Linked DNA regions of Homo sapiens: region 2 is linked to region 1. Evidence: fine-mapped expression QTL. Tissue or cell type: tibial artery. Region 1 holds a variant in brackets; the other region holds the start of a gene. All regions are shown on one strand. Distances are between the middles of the regions.

The links. PIP is the estimated chance that this variant, and not a neighbour inherited with it, causes the effect.
Region 2: it holds the start of DUSP22, and the variant in region 1 is fine-mapped to the expression of DUSP22 in tibial artery (GTEx, PIP 0.91).

Annotation. Positions count from the first base shown.
Region 1 is chr6:353,060-358,262 of GRCh38, reverse strand. No RefSeq gene overlaps it. Among named protein-coding and RNA genes, the nearest start is that of IRF4, 36 kb to the left of the region's middle. RefSeq lists enhancers at 1,929-2,158, 4,236-4,285. The variant A/G (reference allele first, on the strand shown) is at 2,076.
Region 2 is chr6:290,069-295,177 of GRCh38, reverse strand. It overlaps DUSP22 (dual specificity phosphatase 22), which reads right to left and starts at 2,691. Exons shown (of 7, transcript NM_001286555.3): 1 at 2,618-2,691. The coding sequence starts at 2,638. RefSeq lists silencers at 1,399-1,458, 1,469-1,528, 1,408-1,564, 2,309-3,328 and enhancers at 1,959-2,218, 2,511-3,011, 3,012-3,512, 3,439-3,728.

The DNA of each region.
Region 1 (5,203 bases):
CACACAGGCAACTCTATATTCCTGCGGGGGGCAACCCAGGGCCCAGGACACCCAGTGCCCAGCCAGTTACTGCAGGCTAAGGCAGAAAGGTCCGGGCAGAGGCGTGCGTGGTTGTCCTGCTGCAACCCTTTGGTTGCAAGAAGCAAGAAGTGAATCTCTGCCACTCCCTACCTTCCCACACTCTACAAGGCCTCTAATCGAATGCACGCCCATCCTCAGGGAAGAACTTCAACACAGTGGCACGTGATTGCTGGCACTGCGTGGGTTTCACCCTCCTCTCGTGATTCCCCCTCAAAGGCACTGGGGTGACTGTAGGCGCACCTTGCCTGTGACTGGGGTCAGGCTGCTTGCATTCCAGTCCTGACCTGGCTGCCTCCTGGCTGTCAGACTAGAGTTCAGTGTCTTCATCTGAAAGCGAGGATCATAGTAAAACCTATCTCACAAGATGGTGGTGAGGACGTGATTTCAAAAGAAAAGGTCCTCTGCCAGTTCTCGCCATGCATCAGCGCCCAATGGCTGTTGGCCGTGCTCAGGTTGACCACCCTGCCATCTAATGGGAGGTCTTTGGGGATAGAAGGGGCCTTCCCAGACACATCAAATGCCACCAGCCAGGGTGCTGTCTGCACCCCTCATCCCTTCTAGGGAGTTTTTTTCATGGCAGTGGAGGGGAAAAGTTCCCCACATGAGTGTGTTGCCTCCTCGGGGACTTCCCCAAGGTATTCCAGAGAATCAGGACCCAACTGAACCTCAGCCAGGCCCGCCTGGCCCCAGCCACTTCAAGACTCTCATCTGCTGATACCACCTCTGCCCCAACCTGTGCTCCTGGTGGTCCTGGGAGCCGGAGGGTCACGGTGACGGGAGGGCCTGGCAAGGCATGGAGCGGGCCTCTTGCTGTGGAAGTGACTTTCCAGGCATGAAATGATGGCAGCCCACCCTTCTGCACCCCTCTCGGCCACACCTGAACCTGCAAACAGCCGCTGTAACAGCCAAGAGTCGGTTCCTCTCCTCTCACACCTTCCTGGCGTTCCCCGTGTCACCACATTGGCCCAGCTTAACACAAAACCCAGGAGAATCCCAGCAGCTGACCCTGGCACATGACAGGCCTCTCCCAGGACACTGGCTCTGAGGAAGCTCTGTGCGGCTGGGCCTGTTGCCATGAAGGGTACACCCTTTGTAAAGCAGAAGGTGACATTTCTTGGGTGCACGTGTTGGAGTCTTCTGATTCTTATTTTCCAAAAAGGCTGCCCATCAGTGTCTGGGGAAACCCAGCGCTGACTGACAAGCAGCAGACCTGCTCACCAGCAAGGTGCACTTCCTGTCTGTGCTGATGGGGCCGCTTCTGGGGGTGGGTGCCCGAGGCCCAGGGCAGAACAATGGACGACGTGCCTCTGCGGGGAGAGAGGGGCCAAGCTTCCTACCACTACTGTGCATCGTGGGGGCTGCTGCGTGGTGATGTGGCTCCTCGGGCCAAGCTGGGAAGGCGGCTCTTGCTGGGATTAGCACTTTTCCAAGCCCTGTCCTCCAAACATTATTCCTTGAAGGAATTATTAACCCAAAAAGCATCCCCCTAACCTCACCCCCATCATCTAGGTTTTTGTTTGTTTGTTTTCCAGACGGAGTTTCACTCTTATTGCGGAGGCTGGAGTGCAATGGTGTGATCTCTGCTCACTGCAACCTCCACTTCCTGGGTTTAAGCGATTCTCCTGCCTCAGCTTCCCAAGTAGCTGGGATTACAGGCACCTGCCACCACGCCCAGCTAATTTTTTGTATTTTTAGTAGAGACAGGGTTTCACCATGATGGCCAGGCTGGTCTTGAACTCCTGACCTCAAGTGATCCACCTACCTCGGCCTCCCAAATTGCTGGGATGACAGGCGTGAGCCACCCCACCCGGCCTATATAGCTTTTAAAATCAGGCCTGTGTACACAGGACATGCACAGAAATGACCCCATCCAAAATGTCTTTTCTGCTAAACCTACCTCTAAACCAATAGCTGCCACTACACGCAATTAGAATATTGAACTCCCTATACTTTCAGGCACCTGCTGAAATAGATCTCTTCCAACATCAAGCTCT[A/G]AAAACTGAACTAGAAGCTTCAGGAAGGTTCGCTGTGAACTTCTAACTCTTTATGACCAACAGTTTGCATACAGATTTGGAGCCAAAATAAACCCAAACTTGCAGATGTTCAAACATGCACTGGCAAATCTTTCCCCTGATGGAAAGAAACACATGCAGACCCAGCACTCGCACCCTTCAGTCAGATGGTAATTTAAGCTGGTTAAGTCCAAGCTGCAAGAGAACACTAATTGTGATACTGCAAGTCTCAAAGCAAGCTGTGCCTGAGGGCGGAAGGAGACCCCACTGCTGCATGTAAGAAGGGAATTAAGCCTCCAAGTGACAAGTCAAATGCAGTGTTGTTTTTTTTTCTCCCTTTCTCTGGGCAATGAAAAGGAAAGGGAAGAGGAACTGCCCGCTGCAGTCTTGGTGATTTCTTGTTAAGTACATATATAAATACAAGCGTGTTGAAAGCATATTCTTAATAAAATTATTAATAACTCAGGATGGGAGGAGACATCTGATGTGGGATCACAGGGGTGTGATTCTTAGTGTGTTCCTTATTTTTATGACTAGAGGCTGGTGTGCAGAGCAGCACTGTGACCAGCTCTGGCTGTGCGATGAGGGCTTGGCCATTCCTCGGAGTGCTTTCAGGTGCCTGCTGCTTGAGCTACCTGAATGGCCAGGAACCTGAGCTCAGCACTCTCCGAGATGTTGCACATGTAACTCTCCTGGAAGCTAAGGTGTTCTCTGAAATAAAACTAAAATGATAAAATACACATTGCCCACACATGCACACCCTGGTCAGCAGAATTTACGGCTGTCTTGTGTCCAAATAACATAAGGCAGCTCCAGAAGTTGGAAACAGAATTCTCTGCTGAGACTGAAACTAGAAAGAGCTGGCACCCAATAAACAAAAACAGCCACTAGCAGGAATCCAGGGAAAAGCACAAATGGTGCTGAGGAGATCTGGAAACACTCAAGTTTAAGGAAGGTGATCTGAGAAAAGAATCACCTTGTGCAGGCCAGGCACAGTCGCTCACACCTGTAATCCCAGCATTCTGGGAGGCTGAGGTGGGTGGATCATTTGCGGTTAGGCGTTCGAGACCAGCCTCGCCAACATGGCGAAACCCCGTCTCTATTAAAAATATAAAAATTAGCCAGGCGTGGTAGCACACGCCTGTAGTCCTAGTTACTTGGGAAGCTGAGGCAGGAGAGTCACTTGAACCCGGGAGACAGAGGTCGCAGTGAACCGAGACTGCACCACTGCACTCTGGCCTGGGCAACAGAGTGAGACTCTGTCAGACACACAAAATAATAATCACCATGGGCAGAGAGAACAGGTGTGCAGCAGGGGTCTGCCTGGGGCCCAGGAAAGGCAGCCTCTCAGGAGCAGCAGCCCTGCTCTCACATGTGCCTCATCTGCTGCACCAGCAGCACCCCAGCCCGGAGACACGGCAGGTATGGACAGAGCCTTGGCTACCCAGCTTCAGGTCCTGACCACTCACGCTCACTGCACAATGCCCCAGGACTAAGGTAATCTCCCCAAATCTTGCTAATGACAGAAACAGAGCTAGCCTGACCAGGAGATGACATTAGTCTTTGGAGAGCCAATATTTTATCCTTCACAGTAAAATAGGAAATCGGAAATTTGAATTCAATCTTCATTTTCATGAGTCTGGTCCCTGGGAATGTGTCCTGGATGATGGACAAACATGGTACCTAACCGCAGAGCCAGGTTACACCCAAGCACAGCCCCGCTTGGAGGCCCCTGATCTGGGACCCACCCAGCCCCTTCTGTAGCATCTTCCTTAAACCTTTTTGCAGAGGCATACACACCACACAGTACAGGAAGATGCTGGGACAAAAGAGCCACCGCACTGTTACCAAGGTCCCAGAGAGCAGGCGGGGCACTGGGCCCTCACTCCCCAATATGCAATCAGTCACCAAGAATAGTTGCATGTCCTTCCCCACCCTCCATCAAGTCCATTTGCCTGCTGGGCCCCTCTTCATCTCCACCACCATGACCCGTGGCAGGCTGCTGTTTTTTCTCACCGGCATAGTCCTAGCAGCAGCCTCCTGACTGGCCCCAACATGCAGTCCCACCCCACTTGGGCACCTGCGTGAGCCTTCTGCCTGCACATCCATCATGCGTCCCGCTGGCTCAGCACCCTTCAGCAAGTCCTCCACTCCCCCACCATCTGCAGAATTGCAGCCGCACCACTTACAAGGTTACAAGCTCAGGAGTCAGACCTCTGAGAACATGGTAAGGTGCTGCCCCTCTCAGCCTGCTTAGCTCCAAGGGCTGGCCTAGGAAGTAAACCTGGCTGGTCAGGCTTCGGCTGTGCTCGCAGCCTTGCTGGCACAATCCCAGCACTGCCCAGCCCTGGGGAGGCTGCTCTAGTTCTGCAGTGGCTCTCGTTCCTGACCCCAAGGTCTTTCATGCCTGCTGGCTAGCCCACGTGCTGAGCCTCCACCTGAACTCTCCTTCCTTCCCGCCATGCCCAGCTCATTCCACGGCTTATACTGCAGGTCTTAAATTAGGTACTGCGTTTTCTAAGATACTTCCCTTAAATGTTCCCACCTCCTCAAACTGGAATGTGTCTTTTCACCCCTTTCCCCCATACACGGCACCAGGGACAGCTGTAATAGTCCTTACCATGCTGTCCTGTAAGTCAGCAGTCCCCAACCTTTTTGGTACCAGGAACCAGTTTCGTGGAAGACAATTTTTCCATGGATCACAGTGGGGCAGGGATGGTTTCGAGACGAAACTGTTCCATCTCAGATCACTGGGCACTAATTAGATTATCATAAGGAGCGTGCAACCTAGATCCCTCGCATACGGTTCACGATGGGGTCTGTGCTCCTATGAGCATTTGATGCCACTGCTGATCTGACAGGAAGTGGTCACCTCCTGCTGTGTGGCTCAGCTCCTAACAGGCCATGGACCAGTACTGCTCTGTGACCCAGGGGCTGGGGACCCCTGCTGTGAGTGACAACTTTCCTAACTGCCAACCCCCCCAGGCCACAGTCTTTCTGAGAATCAGGAGTGTGTCTGAGGCCTGGCTGGATCCCATAGCACCTGTTACGATCATTATAAATTTGTCAAGTCAATGAATGAATGAATGAATGAATGAATGGAGAGGCAG
Region 2 (5,109 bases), 63 kb after region 1:
CCAAAGACATTGCACATATTTATAAATGTTCTTAGAAAAGGATTTCTAGGGGTAGCACCTTCCGCTGATTCTGCAAATCAACCATTCTTCTTTTTTTACAGATGAAGCCTCGTTCCAAGTCACACAGTAATATATGGAAAAGTTCTAGTTAAGGTTCTTAAGTTACTGGCCTCCTGCGATCTACTTTGCCACTAATGAACCTTGTGATTTGGGGTAGTTCCTCCTGATCTCACGTTAAACATGTTTACTGCAGCAGGATTCCTTGCCTGGGCTGAATGCCCCTTCTAGGTCACTTTCATCCCATCTTCTGCTTTCCCCACTTTTCTGAAATTGCCTATTTTATCCTCTGGAGCCTCTACTCCTCCCTACCTTGTGTTTGTTCTCTCTCTCACCCCCACACACATACACACCCTGTGTTGTGCAACACAGCAGCCATTAGCCACAGTGACTATCGAGTACTCCAAATGTGGCTAGTCCAAAATGAGATGTGATTTAGGCATAAAATACACACTAGACTTTGAAGGTTAAGTGATCTGGGGGTCCCGAGATTTTTCCTTTCACAAAGACATAGTAAAAAACATGGAATCTTCCATGAATAACTTTATATATTGGTTACATGTTGAAACAATAGTTTTAATATATTGTTAAATAAAATATATTATTAAAATTAATTTCACCGGTTTATTTTTTAATGTGGCTACCGGAACATTTTAAGTTACATATATAGCTCGCATCATATTAGTGCTGGACAATGCTGACCTGTACTGAAGGTTCTGTGAAGAATCTTTGGGTCATTTACCACTGTACTCCCTTTGCCCCCTCCCCACCCACTAGCACAACACCTGGCTCATAGTATGTACATAATCAATAAGTGTTGAAGCAGGGAAGTCTCTAAATCTCTCTATACATGTATTTCTTCATTGATACACTGTGAGTCTCTATTCACAAGATAATAAAAGTCAAGAAATTTATTACCCATTTTGAAAGGTAAAAAGTATATGAATATTACTGCTTTTGTTGAAAAGCATGAAAATAACGTTGATCCCTTAGGCAACCATCTGTATTCCTAAATATATTTTTTGAATTGTATTACACAAATACTATAAATTAAATGCTGAAAACGGTGGAGAGTGAACAGCTCAAGTGGGAAAACTAGAAACAGCCAAAGGAAAGCTGAGATACCACCACCAATGGGAAGGCAAACGGAGCCCACAGACTTATGATGACCATCTTTATTGTTCTGTTTTAATTTAAAAAGCAGAAGGCTCGTGGTGCTGATGGATTCCAGTGCTCATCGGAATATAATACAAGTATTTATCCAAGAGAGAGACAGTCTGTTTCCAAACTTGATCACTCGCCAAAAAAAAAAAAAAAAAAAAAGTGAATACAATTCTCTTTACCAAAATACCCCAGTATTGATATGCAGGTCCCAAACACACAATAGTTCTTTCACAAACTGGGTAACCAGGACACAATAAACACGACATGCGCACGTGAAAAGTTAGCTAGGTTTTCCCTGCCCTACCGTGAATCCGCATTTGCAACACTCCAGCCCCAACACCCAAACCACTGCTGACCCAGTGCTGAGGGACATGAAAAAAAACACAGCCACATTGCCATCCCCACCCAGTGTGGAAGCTGACGGCATGTAGAGATGTGGGTGGGTGGAGCGCAATGAAAAAGTGAAGCAGAAAGACGACTCATCTAATCCAGGACCATTCAAAGACCCGTAAAAAGGTACTTGTCTTTGTTGCGGGCTTTGTAAAGTCTTGTCAATCCTTCCTCGAAACCAGCCAAGTACCAAGTAACAAAATCCTTAACCCTGTGGTTCACATGAATACACCCCGGCAACTCTCAGCTGCCAGAGCTGGAATCTGGCAACTTCCCTGGACGGGAAAGGCTAGCCCACCGCCCGGGAAGTGAGGTGCGGGCAACAAAAGAACACAGGGTGGGGCCCAGAAACGGACGGGACAAATGGAGCAACACAGATTTTCCAGAAGGCCTCATCAGCGCAAGCAGCCAGCAACAGGTTGCCCTTGTTGCAGAAGTCACATAACCTAATCAACTCTGAATCTTTTCTCTCCTCCCCACTATCTAGAAACAGCTCAGGACTTAGGACTCTGTTAACTTCTCTGTCCACAAGAAAAACTTCTCTGTGCTCACAGGCACACACACAGAATCTGAGGAGAAAGAGGAAATTACAGAGGACACCCGTTTACTAATGATGTGGGGGGGGCGGTGGTGGCTTCAAGAGCGTAGTTTGGGAGCGAAGAGGAGGGCAAAAAAGAAGCCACATCCATTCGGAGCTCAGCTGACCTCTCGGCAGAACAAGTGTCAACGCTTTCAAAGGGCGCGGCTTGTTTCAGCCACGAAAACGCACCGGCTGGCAAGGCAGGCGGCTGGGGGCTGCCTACCCGGAAGCCGGGTGGGGTGGGGGCGGGAACACCTCCGAACCCCGACTCCGCGGTCGCCGCCCAGGCGCGCCGCCCCTCCCTCCGCGCCCGTCCCCACCGCGGGAAAGGGCACCCCGGGCTCGAGTCGTCGGGCAGCCGACGCCGGCGAGACGGCAGGGCGTCGGAGCGGAGGCAAACCCAGCGCGAACGAGGGAAGACGTTACCTTGTTCATCCCATTCCCCATGGTGGCTGAAGGCGAACGCTAGCGCCCCGGCCGTGTGGTCGCAGGCGCACTATGGCATGTTACAGGGAGGAGGAGCGGCGGGGCGGGCGGGGAGGAGGCGCGCGGGAGGGACTGAGTGCTCGCAGTGTCAACAAGTCAGCGGCAGGGACCGGCCGGGCAACCCAGGGCGCTCCAGAGACCCGGCGTGGAGGGCAGGGCTTTCTGTGCGGCGGCCTAGAACTTCCCGGCGGGAGCCGGGCAGGGGCACCGGAGCCTATGCCGGGAAATGGTCCCGCCTTGCCGGTCCCCGCCCCCGTGCGCACCGGGCAGGCCCAGCGTCCCTCCTCGCTCCGCCCGCCCGCACCCTGGGATTCGTAGTCGGGTTCCTGGCTGCCGCGCCCCACTCCGCCCTCGCGGACCCCGGCTCGCGGCCGCCGGGCGTGGGAGGCACTAGGCTCGGGCTCCCAGGCGGCCGGCCCCGGAGGCCAGAGCGCGTGCGCGGCCCGAGCCGCCCCGCCGGGACACCCGAGGCTGCGCGGCGGGGCCTGGCGGACGCGCAGGCGCTGCCCTGACCGGGCGGCTGCGCTCGTCTCGGAGCCCGCTCCCCGGCCGGGGGTCTCCAGATCCCCCTTTGGCCTTTTCCCCTGGGGCGACTCCGGGGGCCAGTTACCAGCAGTCGCTACCCAGCCTTGGCTGCCTCCGTGAATCAGGTGCTAATCAGAGGCCTGGTCTCTGGGGGCTCCCCTGCCTGGGTTTTCTGAGTGCGGCAGATTTAGGCTGGGGGATTTCCTGCGGCCCTGCCCCATGCACCAAGACCGAGAAGCCTCGCCTGGTGGGGAGAGGTGGGCTACGTGACTCACCCCGGGGAGGCCCGACCTCCCTACCCTGGGGGAGCAGATGGCTGGATCTCTGACCTCAGACCTCACGGCCTTAGATGATGTGTGTCCCTTAATGTCTGCATTGTGGTTCTGTCTGGAATGGATCAATTTCTAAACTGTAGCAGAATTGTTTTGGGTGTTCTATCAACGTTATTAAACTCTGAAGTTTCTCTCCAGCGACAGAATCCTTGAGCCAGTGGTTTTTCTTCTTAATTTATGTATCCTCAACAATGTCCTGAACATAGTAGGTGCTTAATAAATATTTGCTGAATGAGTACATGCGTCAATCTGACGTGCCCTGGCTCACCCCTGCTGACTTCATTTTATCTTCTTGCTAAGCGAGTTACACACATGCTGGTCTCCTGTCTGTTCCTTGAGCCTGTCAGGCTTGCTGGGCTGTGCTCTCTATCCAGACACCTGGATCCCCAGCTCTCTGCATACCTGCCTGTTATCGCTGAGGTATCAGCCCAAATGCCATCTCTCCTAAGAGGCTTTTCCTAACCACCCAATTCCAGGTTGGTCCTCCAGTCACTATCATATTACTCCGTATTATTGATCGGAAATACATGTATTTGCTTTCTTTTTATCTGTCTCACTAGCCAGCAACTTTCAGATTAAAAAAAAAAAAAAAGTTGTCTTATTCAGTAATACAGCCATGTGGCCTGGGACAAAATCTAGCACAAAATAGTGATTTTTAAAATATTTGTCAAATAAATTAATAATTTCTTGTGGCCGAGAAAACGGGTGAGGTTCTGAGGAATGTGAACGTTTGGAAAGAGCTTGTAGACTCCATCTGTCGCCATTTCTGTACTTGTACCCCATATCTTCTGGGCAACAAATGGTATCAAAACCCCCCGTGTAGAAAGCCCTCAATCAATATGCGCTTGCATGTTTTCTCTAGGTAGAATGGGACCCAGACCCGGAGTGCCCTTTCTGCCTCTTGTTTTGGGAGAGTGTTCCTTCTTCACTGCCTTCACTTCCTCTTCTCCCGCCTGCTTCTCAGTCACCTGGACAGCCTGCCCTTTCCCCTCTGCCACACACTGCCATTAAGTAACTGTTTTTACCACCTTCCTGCTTAGAGACAACACAGAATCGTTAGTGGACTGCCTGGGGAATCCCAGTAATCAGCCTCTATTTCTAATTCTTAAGGAGGTCTTGAGCAAGATGATCAACTTTTCTGAGCTAGCTTTTTTTTTCTCTTTAAAACAAGAGCATTAAACTGTGAATTTTTGAAGCTTCTATCCAGCAACCAATGAATTACTTCTGCAGCCTTCTGCCCTCCTTGGGCCATTCATCCAACAGTCAGATGAACGTTTAAGAACACAACCAGTTCATAAACTGGTACTTGACCATGAATGACAAATTCATACTGATTTTTTTCTTCTGTCATCCACTTGCAATATTTCTCTCTTATTCATACTCTTCTTGTAGATATATTTCTCCAGCTTGGACCATCTGCTTTTCCCCCTAAACTCAGAACCTGCCATGGCTTCCTCCTTACCGTCAAAATCAGCATTCAGTATGGCCTAAAAGGTCCACATGCCCAGAGTTCCTATCAAAATCTCAAATTTTTCTTTTGGGTTAAATAGGAAAAGAGGAGACTATTAACACCAG